3 linked regions of the Homo sapiens genome follow. The protein of the gene in region 3 interacts with the protein of the main gene of each other region in a biochemical or structural test. Each region holds a gene or a part of one and is shown on either strand. Other genes may lie near its edges. The genes, in order: SCN3A, USP25 and CNTN1.

What was found.
Region 1: the proteins of CNTN1 (region 3) and SCN3A form a complex in vitro, tested with the Homo sapiens proteins (one study listed by BioGRID).
Region 2: the proteins of CNTN1 (region 3) and USP25 form a complex in vitro, tested with the Homo sapiens proteins (one study listed by BioGRID).

Annotation. Positions count from the first base shown.
Region 1 is NC_000002.12:165,200,786-165,208,748, forward strand, and holds the start of SCN3A (sodium channel protein type 3 subunit alpha), read right to left. Parts: upstream 3,266-7,963; 5' UTR 3,038-3,265; intron 1-3,037. UniProt on the Homo sapiens protein: Pore-forming subunit of Nav1.3, a voltage-gated sodium (Nav) channel that directly mediates the depolarizing phase of action potentials in excitable membranes.
Region 2 is NC_000021.9:15,823,668-15,831,352, reverse strand, and holds part of USP25 (ubiquitin carboxyl-terminal hydrolase 25), read right to left. Parts: intron 7,315-7,685; coding exon 7,187-7,314; intron 6,388-7,186; coding exon 6,292-6,387; intron 5,150-6,291; coding exon 4,988-5,149; intron 4,377-4,987; coding exon 4,150-4,376; intron 3,013-4,149; coding exon of another isoform or gene 3,002-3,012; exon of another isoform or gene 2,668-3,001; intron 823-2,667; coding exon 752-822; intron 1-751. UniProt on the Homo sapiens protein: Deubiquitinating enzyme that hydrolyzes ubiquitin moieties conjugated to substrates and thus, functions in various biological processes including inflammation and immune response.
Region 3 is NC_000012.12:40,695,193-40,702,877, reverse strand, and holds part of CNTN1 (contactin-1 isoform 1 precursor), read right to left. Parts: intron 1-7,685. UniProt on the Homo sapiens protein: Contactins mediate cell surface interactions during nervous system development.

The sequences.
Region 1 (7,963 bases), on a different chromosome or scaffold from region 3:
CCCAAAGACCCCAGTAGCACACAGCTGTCAGGAGCACGAAGCTACACTTAGAAACAACCTTTGGAGGAAAGCAGGGATTTTGCAGTCCATCAACCATTCATCAAGCACAATTTGCCTTTCCACATCTTATTGTACCGTTAATAGAATTGAAGCATTAGAGAGTTTGTGAGTTGATCACATAGCAAAGACTTTCCTGAGATTTAGGTTCAGTTATCTGGTGGTCTTAGTAGAAATTACTTGGCGTTTAAATGTGGTTTTGGTGAAACCTAGATTCCCTTTGTGAATCTTTACAGAAACTTCGTCTAACAGGTATATCCTCTTAAGGCAACGTGAAATAAGGCCCTTTGCCTCTATTTTCATAAGAAGAAGAAAGTTTTGAAGTCCGTGATAACATATTGGGCATAAATAACTGTCTTCTGGAAGGCATTATGAGTTCTATAAACTCTCCAGGAATTGCCTGGAATGTTAACACTAAGTGATACTATTATAGGTACACAATTGTTGTTGTTTCAGCAAGGGCATCCTTCCAGGATGAGAATTATTCACTTTTCAGGTACATAATTATTTGGCAGTTTTATTCTATCCTTCCTGTTGTGGTGGAAGATATTATATCACCAGCACTAACGATAACAATAATAACAATGATGAAAATTTATGCCTTTATGTTTGTCCTGTTCCTTTTGATGTGAGTTAGGATGGCAGGGAGAGAGAGGAAGGAGGTTCGTAATCATGTTCCAGGATCTATACCAAGCACTGAACAGACATTATTTTAGTTACACAATCCTGTAACACAGGCATTATTATTCCTATTTTAAAGATGATGTAATAAAGGCTCAGAGAGTTTAAATAACTTGTCAGGTAATAGTGGCCATAAAATGTAACCTGCCAAGCTCTTGCTCTTAACCACTTCTCCATGTTGTTTCCTGCTTGTTTCCACTACAGAAGGAACTGGCCAAGAAACGCCCCTATTTCTCTATTTTACCACTTTCATGTTTAGCACATCAATCATAATTTACAACTCAGTGAGAGTCAAAGTTGTATCTTAATTAAGCTGAGAAACCAACTGAAGAAAAATCCAAATAAATGAGGATCAGAAAATTTTAAAAACAAAGTATTCTTATACAGCTTTGATTCTAATTTCCTTCCTTTGTAGGCAAGGAAAATGCTCTTCAGTGATACTTGGGGTCTTTTCTGAGACAACAAAACTCACTAGTAGCAGAACATGAACCAGATCCCAAGACTTTCAGCTCAGGGTTCAACCTTTTTATCTTCAGTACTCAAATAAATCACAGCATTTTTCTCAACTTTACAAATGAAATCACCACTACATTCTTTTAAAGAGTAAGTTATTCAAATGTGTTTGATATATCATTTAATCAAAGCAGGTTTAATTTCCGAAATTTTTGAAAGAGCGCATTTTGTGAAGTGAAGAACTCTGAGTGTATTTGCTTTTTCACATGGCGACCACATGTATAGATGAATAACTAAGAGACTGTTGCAACTATACCAAGAAAAATAAAAGCTAACATTTGGGGCCAAAATTAAGCATTCATTCATAAATGTAAACCAGTTCAATCAAGACCAGCTCTGATGCTTACTCAGAACAAAGTTACTCACATTTAGTCACCTGTAGAGAAGCATGGTGTGTACAATACACTCAAGTTAATTAACAGCCATTTCTGGGAACCCTGTCCAAAGAAATAGTTTTCTTTATCTCCTATGGTAGGAATTCTTCTGAAATAGACAAGACCCAGGGCTCTCCTCTCAGGCAACCACTATTTTGAAATGTTTTTGGGGGGACTATTATTGCTACTCAATGTAAAATATTAAGTGAGATGTCAATATTTTTCAACATATCATTAGGAATTACAGTTTGGAGGCCTTAAGTTCTATTTTTGAAGCCCTTTTAGCCAGTACTGACTGGAAGCCCTGTTGAAATCAGAAGTCTTCATTTCATATAGGGCACACTCTATTTGGAGTGAATGTGATGAAATGTTTCCATGCAAATTCCTACAAGCACTTATGCCTTTATCTTTGTCCTCATAAGCCACATTATACTACCTGTTGTGTATTTTAAAACCCTGTATGATTTTTAAAACTTATCTTTCAATTAATATGTATAGATTTTCTGTCAATAATTTCTTATTCTAATTATGTGGTGGCTAACTGAATGAAACATTTATGGTTATGATATAGAATATTCTAAATACAACTACAGACAATATGGATCATAGATAAAGTAAATTATTGTTTTATGGCTCCAGTGGTTCTTCCTGGTAATTAATAAAAATAAACAGTTATTAAATATATACAGAAAAACAGCAATCTATCAAGCTTATAGAACAATTAAGAATATATAATAATCTTTAAATCAATAAATTAAAAGGTAAACATTTAATATAAAATGAATATATTAAAGGATAAAGAAGTAGCATATTATGGAACATATAGAGATTATTTTATTTTTTGAAGGTTCAACCTCTTTTAAATGGTTAGTATTGGTGTTCTTTTCTCTATGAAAACAGATTTTAGAGAAAAATGATAGTGTATTTCACAAAGCCAAACACCTCTATATTGTTATCACTCCCTATATGCATGGCCTCTCTAAAGCTGTTAAATAAAAAACTAAAGCACAAGAATGATAGTTCCAATTTCACTATACATTTATGTTTAAAAAATACTGGACACACTGGGCATTTAAATAGATGACATACAGCCAGGAAACTCATTAGACTAGCTTTAAGTATAATAAAAAATATTTTTTCTGAATACAATTAATCATAAGCATCTACAAAAACACAAGACCATTGATGCCTAGTATGTACCATAAATCACCATTTCCAGACAGGCTCTATTTTCTTTGAAAGATAAAGAAATAGTAAGCAGTTTACACATCAAACGATGCCTTTGGTTCCTGTAATTTACATTTAAACAACACTGGGTTAAAAATAGCAGCATGAAGATGATTTTAAAGTAAGGAAAATGACCTGGTAGCTAGGTTCTATGGTGCAGATAATGAAATGTTTTGTCAGCTTACCTGATAAAACAGAGCCTTATGAATTACAGCATAACAAAGCCCAGCATCCAAGATGGTTAGGGTATAACGTGTCTTCCTCTGCAGCTGTTCAGCTTTTTTTTTTTTTTTTTTTTTTGACCACAGAGGTTTACAAATTAGTTACAATTTTTTTTCTTTCTTTCTCTGTGGATAAGAAAACAAAGAGACCTTTCCAGAATCCTCTCTGCTTATGCCTCCGCTTCCTGTTCTGAGATTCACTCTATGGTACCCAACATATATCAGAAAACAGCTTTGAGGAAAAAAAAAAAGAAAGAAAAAAAGGCCGATCGCACTCAAAGTGGTACCGCCATCTACTGGCGGACACACACAAAATTGAGCCAAAGAAAAAACATTCCCATTATCCTCTGTCACAGGGAGGAAAGTAAACCTGCATGAAGCATGGGTAGTCATGAAAGTGCCCCAAGATGACAGTAGAGAGGTGATGTGAGCTAAAATTTCCCAACACACTAAAAAAATGTAACTTATCTACTACATATAAATATGTATGAGACCTTTTACATATTCAGTTATTTGCATCTCACTAATTTTTTTAAAAAATTTTATCACTTTGTTGTTTTGCATGATTGTTTCACACATAAACTACTAAAATTAAAAGATATATAAATTACTGTTTGAAAAATAGGTTTTAAGTTTACATTACCCTTTACGTGTAGAGTTTTGCGAAAGCTCCCTTGTGGCCTGCTCTAGTCTTTTGAAAACCTTTTCTCTTCCTGGGATGAATTATTTTCAAGGTGAGGAATTTGACTCCTTAGAGAACAGTGTAAACACATACTCACTGATAGTATTTTTGTGTTGCTTTCTGGTAAAACATTTGCAAGAAATATCTAAATGTAGAAAAAGATTCTATACATCAGTGAACCTAGCTAATATTATTTATTAGGATATTGAAGCACACAATACATAAAGAAAATAAAAATAATCCATCAGTTATTAAGATATTTCTCAATCCAGATGTATGTTATTGTTTCATCTGACCTTTCATATCTACTTTAGAGCAAACAACTATGATTTTATTACAGTTTATCATCAATTAAATAAATACATTCATATTGACAAACCAACTGTATGGATGGACAAAAATGATGTCAAGTATTATATTAGACTTGAAAAGACACAGAGAGAAACACACAGTGCCTGCCATAAAGGAGCTCATACAAAGAAGAAAAACAAATATAGCTGATACCATATTTCCCAGCCATGTGTTCAAGAACTGTTAATTACATACTTCGTTTTCAATTGTGGCCCCCATTTTGTCTAATGGCAGAAAAATAAATCTAGTCAGTTCCAGGTAAACTAAATTACTTGAGGCTTTTCCCAATGATTTTGGGTTTGCATTCAACCAATACATGATTTTCCTCTTCTATCTCTCCTTCTCATGGAGACTGATCTAAGTTCAGGATTGTGTACATATATAGAGAAAGCAGAGTATGATCCCGTTCCCCCTTTCTCCACATGGGCATCCACTGAGGCCAGGAGTCCTGCATGATCCATGACCATCATTATCCCTCATATCTACTAACGTACCCACAGGCCCACTGGGCCCCGGGAATAGCATCCCTCCAGCTTTGCATGGCAGCATCCCCTCTTTGTCACTTCTTCCTCTAAGGAAACTTTTGTTCCTGTCCTTTAGGAGGAGAGAAGAAAAAGCAGCATGTTCCCAGGGTCACTCTTGGCTGTAATTGGCTGACTTAAGCCTTCCTCCCTGCCCCAGGCGCCTCACACAGCCATCTCTGTTCTGCTGTTTGTAAACCATGGGATGTAATGCACTCTGCAGGCTTCAGGCAAGCGAGGCACAATCTCTGCCACACTAGAATAGTGTAAATAGATGGAAACTTCTCATCTTTTCATCTTTTTAGCTAATCCTAGATTGGCAAACTATGTAAGGAGCCCTTATCAGAGACTCCTTTCCTTCTTCATAACTTCCTTCACAGACTCAAAAGAGTTTTTGCTTGGGTCTCTTCTTTCTGTACCAAAGGTAAGCTGGAGCCACTTGTTTTCCCTTGAAATCTTTTTGTCTTATGTCTAATGTATCAGTTTACTAGGGCTGCTGTAACAAACTGCCATCCTGAGGGGCTTAGACACAGAAATCATTTTTTTCACAATTCTGGCTACTCAGAGGCCAGAATCAAGTTGTCAGCATGATCATGCTTCCTCTGAAACCTGCAGGGGAAGGATACTTTCTTGCTTCTCTTAGCTTTTAGTAGCCCCAGATGTTCCTTGGTTTGTGGCAGCATAACTCCAGTCTCTGTCTCTGTCTTTACATGGTGCACTCCCTGCATCACTGTCTTTACGTACTCCTCCCTCTGTGCATGCCTCTGTGTCAAATTTTCTCCTCTTTATAAGGACACCAGTCACTTTGGTTTAGGGTCCGCCCTCATAACCTAATTTTAACCTGATTATCTCTGTAAATACCCTATTTCAAAATAAGGGCATATTCTGAATTACTCAGAATTAGAACTTTTTGAGAGGAGGCACAATTCAACCCCTAACACAAGAATTTAAATATAAAGCACAAGAATTTGACAATTCTTCTGTCCATCTCCAACGACAATTCCACTTAGGCAATAATAGCCTTGGCTATCTGGCCAGAATTGGGGAGGGTAGGGGAAGAGCCTCAGGTAATGATGAAGACATTTAATAATATTAGTAACAATAACAAAACTAACATTTATTGGTACTATGTGCCAGACATTGTTCTAAGCACTTTACATATGTTCATTTAAACTTCACCCATATGAGGTATTATTATACACACTTTACAGGTGAAGAAGCAATGAAATGTGAGGGAAGTAAAACGTAGTTAGTACCTGATATGGTTTGGCTGTGTCCCCACCCAGATATCATCTTGAATTGTCAGATATCATCTTGAATTGTAGCTCCCATAATCCCTACATGTCATGGGGGGCACCTGGTGGGAGGTAATTGAATAATGGGGGCGAGTTTTGCCCATGCTGTTCTAGTGATAATGAATAAGTCTCATGAGAGCTGATGGTTTTATAAAGAGGAACGTGTCCCCTGCACACGTTCTCTTGCCTGCCACCATGTAAGATGTGCCTTTGCTCTTCCTTCACATTCCACCATGATTGTGAGGCCTCCCCAGCCATGTGGAACAGTGAGTCCATTAAACCTCTTTTTCTTTATACATTACCCAGTCTCAGGTGTTTCTTTATGGCAGTGTGAAAATGGACTAATACAGCACCTCACATCTCATCCCAACACAAGCAGTTGTAATCGGGTAAGATCACTCATAATACAAGCATTTGTCAGATGCTGAAAGAACACAAAGGAAATCAGCTTCCACTAATTTAGATCATTGATACTCACACGTTTAGTGTAAATTTATAACATTTCATTGTTTCATTGTGTACACTTTCTGTCATGAAAGATTCCTATTTTCTAGGCACTTTTAACTTTTTCTTCTCTACTCATGAACAAACTAGCCCTGCTCACTGTCTCTCAACTAAATGTTCATTAAGTGCCAGTCCCTACTGCTCCACACTCATTTTACCATTACTAGTAATATTTAATAGAATATTAATTCTATCACTCAGTTTTGGGTATCCAGATGCTCCAAAGAGTTTTCTGATGACGTCTTCTGAGGAACTGATTTTTCTTAGGTTATACTGGGCCACATTTTAATGAGAACTGGTTTGAACAAAATAAGAAAAGTAAATGATAATTATTGTGGCGATATTCCTCATAGAAAAAAAGAAAAATAAATAAATGCCAGCAAAGAGAGCTTTACTCTTTGTTGCTGAAGAAACTAATTTATCTTGTCATTAAAAGTAGAAAATTATATAAAGGAAGAGTGACCAGAGGTGTGGTATCATTTGCTATGATTCTAACTTCATTGTGACTTTCGTACTTTTTTTCTGTAGACAGAACGACAGGTAGTTTGCAAATCTTCAGTGAGTGGATTCTGAGAGGGTTAAGGTGAAATAGTCATTGATTACCAACATAAGGTCTCTGGAGCCTTAGTGGTGTCTGACCATATGTTGTAAACATATCATGCATAAATCACAGAAATTCACACTAGAAGAGAGCTAATAGCCTCCAGCTGGGACTCATAGGTTGCTCTGTGCATGTCTACTGTTTCTGATTACTCAAGGTCTTCAGAGCCTTTGTGGGTAGGAGCTATAATGCTGGTTTCTATTTGATTTTATAAGCTTCATAGCCAAAGAATACTTTTTGTAACATCCATAGATCTACCAAAAGATTCCCAGACTCTGGCCCAATTTTCTTGTTTCCTAGACCATTATTTCCCAGACAGTGATTGGAGGAATACTACTGTTCTGCTGGACTAATGAAGTGCCACTCCACATCCACCAGAATGGCTACAACTTAAAAAGGCTTATCATACTGTTTGTGAGAATCTAGAGCTACAGAAGCTGTCAGAGACTTCAGGTAGGAATGTAAACTAGTATAACCACTTAGAAAAATGGTTTGGCATTACCAACTGAACGTGAGTCTACTCTGTGAGCCAGCAAGTGCCACTCTTAGGCATATACCTGACAGAAATGTGTGTGTGTACAAGAATGCCTGTGGAAGCATTATTGAAAACAGGTCAAACAAGAAAGAACAGAAATATCTTGAACAGGAGAATGGATATAAGAATTGTGGTGTATTCTGAATCTATAGTATCATACTAACATGAAAATGAAAAACTGCAGCTACCCACAGAAATATGCTGGATTTCACAAATCTGAGGCTGAGGACGAAGAAGGTATGTAAGCAAAACATTATTAAATTTAAAAACAGGACTGGGCGTGGTGGCTCAAACCTATAATCTCAACATTTTTGAAGGCTGAAGTGGGAGGATCACTTGAGCCTCCAGGAGTTCAAGACCAGCCTGGGAAAAATGGCAAGACCCTGTCTCTACAAAAAAAA
Region 2 (7,685 bases), on a different chromosome or scaffold from region 3:
TATACCACATTCCATGAAACCCACAAACAACCTGTTTGGAGAAAACCATAAGAGCATTTTTTTTTTTAAATGAGAGAGAACTGGCTGGGCTTAAAAGTTTGAAAAAAACTAAACTATAAAACTTTAAAAAGACGGAATCTGAATAAGCTAAAGATATGCAAAGTTGATAGATTAAAAAGATGATTTTTGAAAAACTAAAAATGTATTTATTGTGTACATACTCATTGGCCTAATTGTTTATTTGAATAAAAAGCTTATAGTGGGCAGTTTTACATATAGCAAATGTGTCTACATCTTCAGAATTCTAAATTGACGGTTAACAAAATAGATTATATGATATACACCAGAAGTTAAAATGTAATGGAGTCCTTAAGTTTCTTCCCAAATCTTAATATCCTTTAACAACCATAGATTTTCTCCCATAAGACTTTTTAAAGATGCTATAGCCTTTTGAAAAACTTTGGTAGATTTTACTGTAAAATAGTAAGGGTACACAACACATACGGTGTGAAAATACAACTGAATGGGGAAAACTTGTCATGAATTTTGTTATAAATTTGTTATAAAAGTTTCCCCATTCAGATGAACTGTCACATTGTACATATTGCAAGCCCTTATTATTTTACAATAAGATTTGCCAAAATTTTAAAACAAAACATGTAAAGAAAAATTAGATTAAGATAATGTAAAGGTAAATTAAAATATATGTAAATAATTTTGACAATGATTACTAGCTCAAAATTTCACTTACTTGTATCATAGATTTGTCAGAGTACATTAATTCAATTGTTCGATGGATTCTGGATATGCTTTCCTGCAAATCTAAGGATATAAGGTGTCATTTAATGATTAACAGCAAATGTGTTTCTACTTATAAGATAAGGACTAATGTTTTTCCTACAAACATGTTAGAGGAATAGGAAAATTTTCCTAAAACTTTTCTTAAAAAACATTACCATTTGAAATCTGTAGAAAATGAATTATAGTTATTCTTAATAAAAGACACAGTACAAATGCATACTTTAAAAACAACACAAATATGATTTATCTAGAAAATGTGCAGAGCCAATAAAAGTGAATTTTGTTCAAATCTATAAAGGAGAGTTTCAATGAAAATGAAAGCTAAGCTTCCTTACATATTGCTATAACACAAGTAAACTTAAGAACAAAGTAAAACATGTTCACCACATATCTTGTACACACACATAACTGAATAAAAATCGACTATAATCACCAGTGAAAATAAAATTATGGCACTCCCATGACAATTATTTCTACTTCTAGTAGAAAATAATCCTACAAAATTGTTCAGATAGGGATGTTCACAGTCATATTGTCCACAATAATTTTTAAAAAAGAGATAACCTAAATATCTGTCAATAAGGAAACGGTTAGATTGTAACCACATCATATTGTGAAGCTGCTGAACCAATCAGGAAGAAACCTTGAAAAACTATAAAAGAAACTGGCTAACTTTAGAGTGGGGAAAGACCTGTCTTAAGCCTGTCAGAAAACTAGTAACCTTATAGGAAAAGATAAGATCCTCCCTGCCCAACACTTTAAAAAATCTACATTATAAAAAGAAAACAAAACCAACATAAAATCAAATGAAAAACTGGGAAAATAATATCTGCAGCATATGTGATATTATAGGTAAAGTGTTAATATCCACAATACATTAAACTTTCTATTAAGTAATAAGAAAAATACAAATAGCTCAATACTTAAAAAATGGGCAAATGTCACAAACAAGAAATTTACAGAACAATATAAATATCCAACTTCACTCGAAGCTAAGGGAATGCAAATCAAAACACTAAAATACCAGTTTTTCAATTGTGAAAAACTACTAAAAAGTGTCCAGGGCTAGGGAGGATACTGGGAGACAGGCTCTCTCACACAGTGGGAATGCAAACTGGTTTAATGTTTTGGAGTGACAATTTTAAAACAGTCGTCAAAATTTAAAATATACACACTCTGAACCAGAAATGGTGGACATAAGGAAACAACAGATATTGGGGCCTACATTAGGGTGGAGGGTGGGAGCAGGGTGAGGATGGAAAAACCACCTATCAGGTACTGTGCTTATTACCTGCATGATGAAATAATCTTACACCAAACCCCCAAGACATGTAATTTACCTTTATAGCAAACCTGCACATGTACCCCTGAACATAAAAAAGAACATATCCTACTTACAGAAGTGTATAAATATGTATATCGAAGACCAGCACTATTTAGGAAATATCAATATGGGAATTAAATGAATTACATCATACCCGTGTGTTGGAATATTACACAATAGTTTACAAAATAATGCTAACTGCTAACATCAATATGGATGAAAGAAAGAAAAAAAATATCCTGAGGAAAACCTTCTTTCCTGATCCATAGTATTACATATAAAAATCTTAACAGCCAGGCATGGTGGCTCACGCCTGTAATCCCAGCACTTTGGGAGGCTGAGGTGGGCGGATAACAAGGTCAAGAGATTGAGACCACCCTGGCCAACATGGTGAAACCCCATCTCTACTAAAAATACAAAAATTAGTTGGGTGTGGTGGCACACAACTGTAATCCCAGCTACTTGGGAGGCTGAGGCAGGAGAATCGCTTGAACCTGGGAGGCAGAGGCTGGAGTGAGCCCGAGTTCATGCCACTGCACTCCAGCCTGGTGACAGAGCGAGACTCCGTCTCAAAAAAGCTCTTCAAACTTAAAATGGCCAAAAGAGAACTCATCATATTTCTCTTTCCTCCCCTGAGTGGGAACCTCTTTGCCCACTGCTTTACCTTTTTTCCAAAATACATTCTATTTGGTTATTCATACCATTATGAACTGAGAGAATCATTCGATTCGTCCCTCTCTCTTACCTCTAGCCAATGACCCACATCTGTCAGTTGTCTCCAAAGAGTATTTTAAGTACATTCACTTCTTCCCTCCCTCAATGCCACTACTTAGGTGTCAAAAGCTTCCTAGCTTCCACTCCTCTGAATGTAATCTTTTAAAAACAACCTGCCATGAGGAGTAGAAAATTACCCAACGCCTAATATAGTGCTTCATCAACACTATTTGCTTGATTAATGTTTGTTAATGAGTTCAAATATTTTTAAAAATTCCCTCTTATTTGAAAAATACTAAAGAAAATCTTGACAGCTACTAATGCTGTTAGTCACCATCATACCTTATGTACTTCTTACTAAATTAGGGCCATTCTTTTTCAAATATTGTCTATAAAGAGTTAAGTTGGTCATATAATATCCAACAATCAATATTGTTCAATATAATTCCAACCATGTCACATAGTTCATTTTTTTCAAAAATCAATAAATCAGCATAAAATTGGGGAATGATAATAGGGAATTATATTTTCACATTTAAGGAAAAAAATGTAATAAAATCTACCATAATCCATTTTTTTAAGTACACTTTAACAGCAGCAAAGTAGGAAAGAGAAAAGTTCAGAATAACTTATTCTGAAAAAAAAGAAAAAATAGAATAGAAAAGAATAAAAGAGAGTTCCTTCCAAGAAAGGACAGATGGCAACTTGACACACACACACACACACACACACACACACACACACACACGCACACGCACACAAGTGCACACACCCCACCCAGAGCACTGTCCTTATTTTTCTTATTTTGCTGCATGCCAGTAAAAACTCTGTTACAGACTAGTAATGGGATCATAGATACTCATAAATCTGTTAGAGCTATTAAAAATTAAAATTCACATTTCTAATTCTTAAGCCCAAAGAAAATTTTTTAATCACCGGAACTCCCTGTGCAAACTTAGATTTAGTACCTAATTGATATGTACAAACATTGATATTGTATGACATTTCTCCAATGGAGTAACTGTGAATACCAGTTTGATATAAATTTAGAGCAGCAAACTAGAAAATCAGGCCATCTGCTATGTCATTAATCAGCTAAGCAATCCAGGGAAAATCTTTTGGTCCCTGTGAACCTGATATTGAGATTATAAAAATGGGGAGCCAAACTAGTTTATCTTAAAACCCTTTCTGGAAAAGAAAAATGACTATAATATTTAAATATAAAATCCAGACGTGATTTCCCTTCTCAATATTAACATTACACATATCCATCTGAGGTGACAGTAACCATGCTATGAGACACTTCTTACCTCTGGTGTCATTTTCTATTTCTGTCCTCCAGCGATGTAAACAACTTTCCAGCACAGAAAGTTCTTCCTCCGTTATGTGCCTTGGTGCCGGATGCATGGGCAAATCTGGAGGTATCCGGGACTGAGTAAATGGTTTGTGTATTACTGATCTCGATGAAATGGCAGCAACTGATGAAGGTGATGTGCTTGGCAGTTCTGAAGATAGGGCTCCCTGTTGTTCTGTTGTGCTGTATCAAAGCATAGAGTATTTCTTATTAACCTTTCAAGCTGAAACTCTTGACAAAGATCGTGCCAAACCCACAGTATTAAATTGGCTTGTAATTCAAAAGAAAAAATCTTAAAGAAATATGTGGATTGATCTAACATCCAAATGAGATTTTTAATACATAAGAACTAAATTATTATAAGATGAAGTTGTAGCTTTAGAGTTAAAACAGCTTAATCATATTTATTTCTAAAAAACAAGAAAATCTTACGCATGGTGATATTATTTTCCCTGGCTTATCAGCTTACATTACAGAAACAAATTCTAATTTGATAGTACTATTTTTATGGATCATAAAATGCTGAATCTTATATATGTACATACCAAAACATGCTAAAGTATAATTCTGAACTGAAAAAAAATGTGATTAAAATTTTAATCCATAACCATAAAATCTACTGAAATAATAAAAAAACTCCCAGAGGACATACAGTCTTCTAAGTGAATCTACTCTTAGGAGTTCACTGAAGTAAATCAAAGCATACATTTTATAGAAACTGTCTTTAAAGGCAGCAGTTACATTATTGTGTAATAAAGGTAACAACTGTCTCTTGCATCAGGATTACTTTTTACCTTGGTAATGTCTGTGATGGTATGGAACCACTAGGTGGGGAACTAGCGTCAATATCGTCAACAGGAGAAGTGCAAACAGGTTTACTTGAGGCAAATTCCAATGCATACTGAAGAACATCTACCAAGGGGAATCGTTTGGGACCGGAACCATAGCTTAAATATCTGTTAATCATAAAATGTACAAATGCTTTTATTTCTATATACAGCATATTTGGGCCTTTATTATTATTATAAAACGTGATACGATACTTCAATAAAACTTCCTCAGCAATAAAATTCATTTGCTTTAAAACGAAGATGGTAAAACTGAATATACACTTAAGAAAAACATTAAAAGTTCCCCAAAGACAGGAAACCAAGGCCGATTGGGACTGAATGTGAGTATATACTGTTATAATCTGTAAATGCTGTTCTAAATTGTAACTCAATAGGAAGATGAAAACTGACATCTCCTGAGACTGTTTTTATTTTTAGATCTGGCATCTGGTCTCATGATCAAGACAGTGATGTGTACTATCCTCCTATCTTTTACCACTAATCATGTTTCAATATGATTATTCATACTTTTTAAGAATAAAAATCATTAAAATACAATATACTATTTGATGTAAGAAGTTTTAGACTACTAATTTGAAAATTCCTAAAATAGGGGAATGCAGAGCAGATTGGGGTTTGCAAACTGAAATGACTTGTGACATTTCAGCCTTTAGATTTCTGTCTGGCCTGTAGAACATTTCTCAGTCCAGATTCTGACGTCTTTTAGAAATGATCCAAATCAATAGACAACAGTGAGGCCATACTCATACATGGTACCATCCACTGGTATGGAATGGCATTCATTCCCTGTACACACAGATTGCTCTCTAGGCTCCCGGCACATACCATCTTACACCTGACACAATTTCCTCCTTTACGAAGCTGCTGAGAAGACTTGGTAGGCAGCTGAGTTTGTATCCTGTTTTAAGGAGAAAAACTCAGATACCATTCATTTTAATGAAAATCTCAAGAGTAATCTTTAGTTTCATGCAAAAAGGAAGGTCAAAACTATATTCATTTAACTTTGTATCTATTTTCAGCAGTAGGAACATTACCTGTTGACAATGAGATATTTAATTTTAAACACTAGAATAATTTTTTAAAGTCTACTATAGATTTTTAGTTTCAAGCAAAACTCAAAACTATTCACACAATATTAACTACTCCTAAAATTATAAATCACTCAAAGCAAATTTGAAATTAAAAATCTAGTCACCAAATACATGGTTTCTGATAATTATCTCCTAATTTCATAAAAGTTAAAATACCTTTCTAGCCTTTGTTGTAATACCGTGAGGTAATCTTTCAGTCTCTTGATCTCTTCCCTCTTAATTCTTGTTATTTCTCTGTTTCTGTGCATGTATCTATCAGAAAAAGGTAATCATTAGCATTTCCGAATATCATGAAAGTAGATGCAATATGGCCAGATGCCAGCGTACCCGGCCTACCACTCTGGGACGCCAAGGCGGGAGGATCACCTGAGGTCAGGAGTTCAAGACCAGCCTGGCCAACATGGTGAAATCTCGTCTCTACTAAAATACAAAAATTAGCCAGCCACGATGGTGGGTGTCTGTAATCCCAGCTACTCGGGAAGCTGAGACAGGAGAATCATTTGAACCCAGGAGATGGTGTTTGCAGTGAGCCAAGATCGCACCACTGCACTCCAGCCTGGGCGACAGAGCAAGACTCTGTCTCAAAACAAAAAAGAAGGAAAGACAGAAAGATAGACAGAAAGACAGACAGAAAAAAACAAAAGAAAGAAAGACAGGAAAACAGGAAGACAGAAAGACAGGAAGACAGAGAGACAGAAAGAAAGACAGAAAGATAGATAGATACAATATTAAGTACAGACATCACCACAAAGCATCAATTCATTCAAAATTGTATAAGATGTAAGGTAGATAATACAAAATGGTATTTTTTAAAATTCTGAATTTTAAGATTACAAAATTCATCTTTTTTAAATTTCCTTATAACATTATTCCCAAAAACTATACTTTTCTAATACAAAGTAAATTTCATCTACCTTGACAAATGGTATTAGGTATATTATGCAAAAGTAGAAATTAATTCTAAGAAAATTATGCAGAATTTTCCTCTAAACAATATTTTCTCCCTTACTAAACTGTTTCAAACTAAGTCATGCAGTATATCAAACCATACCTGTCCAAATATAAAACTTGGGGAAATTCTAATTTGTTGTGAATTTTTTCTGGTCTTCCCAATGCCTGATTAAATTCAAATCTTGACAATTCAAATGTTAACACAGGTGGTAATTCAGTAAACCAATGCTGAAAGGAAATAAAACAATAACAAAAACTTTAATACCACCTTTGTTTTCTTCACTGCAATCTTAGGCACAGGATGTGGGCACTGACATTGTTATATGTATCACCACAATGCGGACCTGACAAGTAACTGGGTACACAGTTTAGTTAAAACTCAACCTCTTTCTAAAAGTTTTCCACACCTCTTGAAAATTCCAAGAGTGGGTATAATATATGATCAGGAAAAAAAGAAATCTCACAACTATCCTTCGAAAATAATTCTTTACATTAGAATTTCTAGCCCAAAGAAAAAGACACTGGTTAAAACCATGACTTAGTAGCTCAAGTCTTCTCTGTCTTCTTCAACGTGATGTTGAATGGCACTTATACTTAAC
Region 3 (7,685 bases):
AGACAAATAAATTGTGTTTTATGCAAAGGGTTACTATGCAAGTGCTGAAAAGAATGTGTTGGCACTATACTATGTGGAAAGAAAAAGTTGTCCAAGATAAAAGGAAGTGGCAGAACACCGTATATAGCATAATTCAATTCTGGGCCAGGCACAGTGTCTCATGCCTGCAATTCCAGCACTTTGGGAGGCTGAAGTGGGTGAATCACCTGAGGTCAGGAGTTCACGACCAGCCTGGCCAACATGGCCTCTATTAAAAATACAAAAAATTAGCGGAGCATGGTGGCAGGCTCCTGTAATCTCAGCTACTTGGGAGGCTGAGGCAGGATAATCACTTGAACCTGGGAGGCAGAGGTTGCGGGGAGCCGAGATCGCACCATTGCACTCCAGCCTGGGCAACAAGAGCGAAACGCTGTCTCAAAGAGAAAAAAGAAAAAGAATGTCTAATAAATTTGAAAACATGCATAGGAGAACTATCAGTAATAACACAAAACTGGAAACAACCCAAGTATTCAACAATAGAATAAATATGTATATTTTGGGGGCATTCATTCAATAGAATTCTACAGTACAATGAAAATAAATTATTGCTACATGCAAGAATATTGACACAGCTCACAAAAAATTTTGAACAAAAGGAATCTGGGCCAGGCATGATGGCTCATGCCTGTAATCCCAGTACTCTGGGAGGCTGAGCAGGGAGGATCGTTTGAGACCAGGAGTCCGAGAACAGGCTGGGCAACAGAGCAAGACCCTGTCTCTAGGGAAAAAAAAAAAAAATCCGATACAAAAATGCATACTTCATGATTCCGTTTATGTAGATTCTAAAAACAGACAAAACTATTCTACAGTCTTATTAGTCAGAAGCTATCTTTGGAGAACAGTAAGGCGATAGTGATTAAGTGGGGCTGGAAGCGGGGTACCTGGGTGCTGACAAGATTCTTTCTTCTGAAATGAGTGTTGATTTCATAGTATGAATACTTTGTTATAGCTCATTGGGCCAAATGTTTTCTGTATGTCTGCCATTCTTTAATGAAAAAGGGAAAAGGAAAGAATGTAATAATACAGTGTTTTACTTAAAGTTGATGTCTTAGGTTCATTACCACTCAACTTGTGCAGAAACCAAAATTAGAAAATAACATTTTTTGAGAAACCAGGTTAATTTTCAAGCAATCTGAAAGTTGTTATGCTCTCCAAAATAATATAAGTAGACCAAAAGAAAAATAAAGTCAATCCATTAGGCATTTACAAATATTTTAAATTATATTACACCACATTTAATGTATAAAAATACTCTACAAAGGAAAGTTTTATCTGAGATAAAATTCTATTACAGTAAACAGCTTTTCAAGCTAGAATATTATAAATATTATTTATAATATTCATCTTGTCTGTTACAGTTAACAAATCTGTACTTTTAGTAACCATGACAATTAAATACTATCAGATTAGAAGCCTTAGGAGAGAATTACTGTTTATGGTTTGAGATGTTAGAAAGCAAAATTAGGGCAGAAATGCATAAAAACTTCTGGTGCTTGTGTCAAAATTCAAATGATTGGCCTATTAGAGGCATATTTAAATGACACATTGTAATGGTCCAATTCATGCTTGGGAAACTGCACCATGTAAATTACTGTAGTGAAAGATATCAATAAGATATTCATAAATAAAACATATGCAAATTTAGAATGATTTAATTCCTTGTATTAATACTAAATTTATTTGAGGGTCTAGGGATAGATTCCGGTCACTTAGAATAGCAGCATTTTAAACCGTGACTCACAAAGTACTAAAACCAGCTATCATGAGCACTGGGGGTTGGTGCTGAATAACACAGCAATTAAAAACTTGGACTTCAGAGTCAGACAATCTGGGTGTGAATTCTAGCCTCTCCATGCATTAACTTTTTAATAACTAACTTCCCTGATCTGCAAAATCGGAATAATAAACTTTAAAAATCCTTTTCACTGGTTTTGTAAAGTTTTGAGATGGTCATGTGCAACACATTTTTTTTTAAATGCCCAACACAGAGTGAGTGCTCAATAAGTGATTGTTAGTAATTGAGGTGCAATTATAGAGAAGATGTTTGCACAAGTCAATTTTTAAAAATCAATCTTATATCTCGGTGTTTGTAATTTTCAAACTAGGATAGATTGCCATTCTTACTAAGTACCCATCTGTTTTTCATAAATTTCTTTTTCATCACTTGTGCTATTTCCTAAAAAATGCATTTGACCTATCTGGTTCTCCAAGATTACACAGAATATATGCTAAGCCAAAACCTGAAGACTAAAGTTGAACATTGTCTACTAAACAAAGAAAATCCAGTTTATTTTTTATTTTTTTTTTTATTTTGAGACAGAGTCTCACCCTGTCACCCAGGCTGGAGTGCAATGGCATGATCTCAGCTCCCTGCAACCTCTGCCTCCCGGGTTCAAATGATTCTCCTCCCTCAGCCTCCTGAGTAGCTGGGATTATAGGCATGTGCCACCATGCCCAGCTAATTTTTGTATTTTTAATAGAGATGGGGTTTCACCATGTTGGCCAGGCTGGTCTCAAACTCCTGACCTCATGATCTGCCCGCCTCGTCCTCCCAAAGTGCTGGGATTACAGGCGTGAGCCACCATGCCTGGCTGAAAAAAATATTTTAATAATTCAAGTTTTAAAAAAAAAGTAAGGGAAAGAGCATTGTACTTGTCACCTAATATAAAAGGCAAATACTTCAAAACAAACAAAAGAAAGGGTAATATGGTGTGTGTGTGTATGTGTGTGTGTTCTAAATGATCAAGTAACTAAATATAAGACTTTAAAATATGTTTAAAGCAAAAAGTTCTGTCAGCTGGTTTCTTCTCAGATTACTAAAAATCTAAGTAAAAACCCTATATAGGTAATAATGCAATACATTTTTACTAGATTGCTCAGGACTTTCAGGGGATTATTATTATCAAGATTGTTGTCCTTAACCTAGACAAAATCATGGCAGTCATCTCTCAGTGAAATGTTCTGGGCCAACCATAACACATGGGACACTCAACTATGAGCAAGATCATCTTACTTGTCCAGATTTGCCACTAACGTGTAACCTTGGGCAAATTAGTTACTTCTCTGAGCTTTTTTTTTTTATCTGTAAATGTGGATAACCATGCCTTTGAATCTAACTTTCAAAACTGTTACGAAGGATCAAATAAGGCTATGCATGTGACCATGCTTTGTAATCTACCAAAGATGACACCAATGGAAGACCTTTTATTAAATAAAGAAAAGTGAAATTAACTTTGCCATTATTTAATTCCAACACAGCTAAATTTATACATCGACATTATCCATGTAACTATGCATTCCTCTTTCCTTTTAAAATGCAGAATTATTTAAAAGATATTTATTGACTGATTTAGCAATTTGGAATTATTGGCTGTCCTAGGCATGCTTTTCATTACAAAATTCCTCATTAAAAAAAAACTCTCTTTTATTTACTCTGTATAAATCAACAAAACCAGGAAGTTAATTTTTGAAATATTGTGAAGATTGACATAATTTTTAGCTTTTATTGATTGGTTTCCAGGGTAAAGATATGAATCCTTCATTTGTTGAAATCCTAAAAACTAATTTAGTCTTAACCTTCTTTTATTCATTTCTTCAGAAAATATTTATTAAGTATCAACTCTATGTCAGGTCCTCTATCAGACACAAAGAAAAATAACATATGGTGTCTATCCTCAAGGACTTACGGTGGAGGCAAGAGACAAGTAACCAATCAGTACAATATAGTATGGTAAGTGACACGGCAGGGATATCCACAGGGAGTCAAAATTTAAGACTGGGAATTCAGGGGAAGTCCTCCAAGAAATGGTGGCACCTGACCCAAGGCATGAAAAGGTTAGGTCAGTTAAAAAGCAGACAAGAAAACAGGTTATTTATAGTAGAGAATAGAACATGGGGAACATGGGAGGGTGTTGCGAGAAAAGAGGAAACAAGATGCATTAGGAGAAGGCAAACCGTTCAGTTGATTGACATTACGGGAGATTGGAGATGGAAGAAATTTGATTAATCAGAAAATGAATCTAGAGAAGTTACCACGTACCATTTAATAAAGGACTTTAGGTGCAATGCAAAAGACTTCAGACATCTTACTAATACAAAAAAAGGGGAACTAACTCAAAAAATTTTCAGCAGAGGAAGAATACGATGAAATTGGTTTTAGAAAGACAACTGTGGTTATGACATATAGAATGTACTTAGAAGAAGGCGACTATGAGGGAGGAGAATGAAATAGGGACTTCAAACTCTGAATATGTTTCTTACACAGAAAACAATGTTGTAAAAAAATTTAAGTGGCTGGTCTCATGGCCGGTCATGGTGGCTCACGCCTGTAATCTCAGCACTTTGGGAGGCCGAGGCGGGCGGATCACAAGGTCAGGAGATCAAGACCATCCTCGCTAACACGGTGAAACCCCATCTCTACTAAAAATACAAAAAAATTAACTGGGCGTAGTGATGGGCACCTGTAGTCCCAGCTACTCGGGAGGCTGAGGCAGGAAAATAATGTGAACCCAGGAGGCGGAGCTTGCAGTGAGCTGAGATCACGCCACTGCACTCCAGCCTGGGCGACAGAGCGAGACTCCGTAAAAAAAAAAAAAAAAAAAAAAAAAAAATTAAGTGGCTGGCCTCAAAGCACGCTGCTAGTAACTGACTGAGCTAGGTTTCATGCAAAGCTCTGCATAACTCTTAACACCTATGCTCTGGAGAACCGGGCAAACCTGCCTCTCATAAAAGAAACTAAAGCAACCAGCCCTAAGCAAATTGAGTAGTAACAAGACAGTGCAGGAAAAGTGGTGACATGCTCAGGTCTACACCATCAAAATCAAGTACAGGAGTGAAAAATTATCTACTGAGTTAAGGACCATCTGGATAATCCTGGCAGAAGCAGATTTAGTGCCTGAGTCATTCAGATAATTGTGCAAACAATGTGCCCTGCTCTGGCTGAGTAACCTGGCCATTAATATCTTCCATAGTGCATTCTGCCCTGTGGCTCTTTTAAAATGGACAATAGTAGCTCAGAAAGAATTAAGGTACTATTCACTTCATGGGAGAGCTGCCTAAAGAATAATAGGATCTTAATAGACTGAGTGGATTTTATGTGTCCCCAGAGCCATTTCGCACTGGGATATACATATGATATACATAAGCCAGATTCTGCTTCAAAGGAGGAAAGAAGTTCAGCAATAGCACCGTCACATGTTGTTTTTATATTCAATTCTCCGTTAAGTGGTAGAAAGTTTTCTGAACCTGAAAGCTACAAAGAGACACTACTGCAAATAGATTTATAAACTACAGTAAAGCTATACATTTCTGTGTGTTAGAAAGCATTTTTTAAAATGCAAAGAACAAGATGCAGACAATTTTTGCAGTATACCTCAGATTTCCTATTACATGAAGAAAATATGAACACTCCAATAAAGAGTCAAATGAAATTCACAAATTAAAAAATACAAAGAACCTATAAATATAACATTTTTGAACTCATCCAAAATCATAGGAACAATAACTCAGAAGAATAACTAGATACACAATTTGTACTATCAAAATGATCCCAATTTTTAAAAATAATATCAAGTGTTAATGAGAGTATGGCCAAACTGGTACAACCACTGGTAGAGAATAAATCTGTGCTTACATTTTGGGGGAAGCAATTTGGCAGTAAGTGTTATGAGGCTAAAAATATTTACACTTTTGCCTGGGTAACTTCTAAGGTGTCATAAGGAAATGGTCAGAAATGCAAATATTAATGTATACAAAGGTTCATGTTCTTGACGATGCAAAACTGAAAACAATCTGAAGATCTATCATAGAATATTGACAGCCAAAAAACACATGGATAGTAAGAATATTAAATGAAATGAATAAATGTTTATGGTATATTAAGTTTAAAAAGCTAAATACAAAAGTGAATGTTCACTGTAAACTCAAATCTATAATTGAAAAATACCTATTTATATTAATAGAAATAAGACTAGAAGATTGAAATAGGATCTCTTTGTACTGCGGAATTTGGTGGATTTTTCTTTATTCCCAGTATTTCTTTAATGATTTTAGATGTCCTTATAATAATAAGATATTATTTTCAATTGAATATTAAATAGATAGACTTTTGAGTGTAACTTTACACAGTTGGTCATTCATATTATTGAAGTGAAATAATGCCCCATCCTCCTGCTGCTACATTTCCAAGGTCACACAACGGATCAGTCCTGTTGTCAGGAGTTGAACCTGAGTCTCCTGCTCCAAAATCAGTGCTTTTTAAGATACGAACTAAAGTACAGTGAAAGTTTCAAAGGAAAGTAGAAGCACTAATGAAAATTGAAAACACATTATACCAATAATACATGGCATCTTAGATTAAAGCAGATAGACTTATAAATTGGAAGTTTTGATAACTTGCCTACTGGACTCATCCAGGCATGGAGTGCCAGAAGAAACTAGTGCTGGAATAAGCAGAGAAAGATACAAATTAGAGTTGAAAATAAAAATGAATCAATTACTGACTATATGGTGAACACTTGGACTAGAGGAAAGAAAGTCTTAAAAAGTAACTAACCACAAGCCAGAAAGCCTGTAAAGTTGTAGTCTCCATTGATAAAAGCCAGTTTAGGAATGATGCCTATTGATGGGGAAAAAGCAAAACCAGTTTTCACCTTGTGCATTACAATTGCTACAATAGCACTTCTATTATTAATAGCTATTCTTTATGAGTAATTACCATGGGCCAAACCTTATTTTGAATGTTTAACACGCATTATCTCACTTAATATTTTACAAATCACAAAATCCTCTCACGTAAGTGCTATGATAATCCCCAGTTGACTTGCTGATGTTCGCTTAACTGCATCATGATACATAAATATTAACACCTGCAGGCTTCCTCCCAAAGCCTGTGCTCTTAGCCGATAGGGTAAGTGTAAAGGAAATGGCTAATGGGAGGGAGATTAGGAATGGAAATGCAGAAGGAGAACTTTATTTTCAATAAGATAAATTGTCATCAATTTGGGGGATTTGCTTGAAAGCTAGAAGTAGAAAGAGAAGATAAGAGGGAGACAAAGAAAGGAAAGTTAGAAAAATTAAGAAAAAAGTACGCTATCAGAGCATTGTGGTGTCAAGGAGCAAAATTTCAAGAAGATGGACAATATGGAAAATAGAAGGTCAGAAGAGAACAATCGATAATACATCAATAAAAAGAAAACAAACATTGGAATTGAGGAGGAGCTTACTGGTGAGTTAGAATAAGTTGTGGGATATGATAGAGACCATGGCCAATTTACATGTAGAAATAGATGGAAATTGGAGAATTTGTTGATTTTTTTTGAAATAAGGCAATTACAGGACATATTTTGTATACAGAAATATAAATTGTCTATTTCAGCTCTTCCTAGTTGGTCTCAAGGGACACAAGATACAAGAGAATACATAGAACCAGTACATAGTCATAATCCCTACTGTAGAACCGAGTCATTCTATGAAAAGATATAGAAACACCTTATGTCATCCATTACTCCTCATGGAGAGGATCATAAAGCCAGAGGAAGTTTCCTCCCAAGGCATAGCCTTCTACCAAAAAAATATCCCCAAATCATTGCTGCACCCATCCAGCTTCTTAGGATGATGCTTCCTGAACAAGAATCTTTAAGGCTACT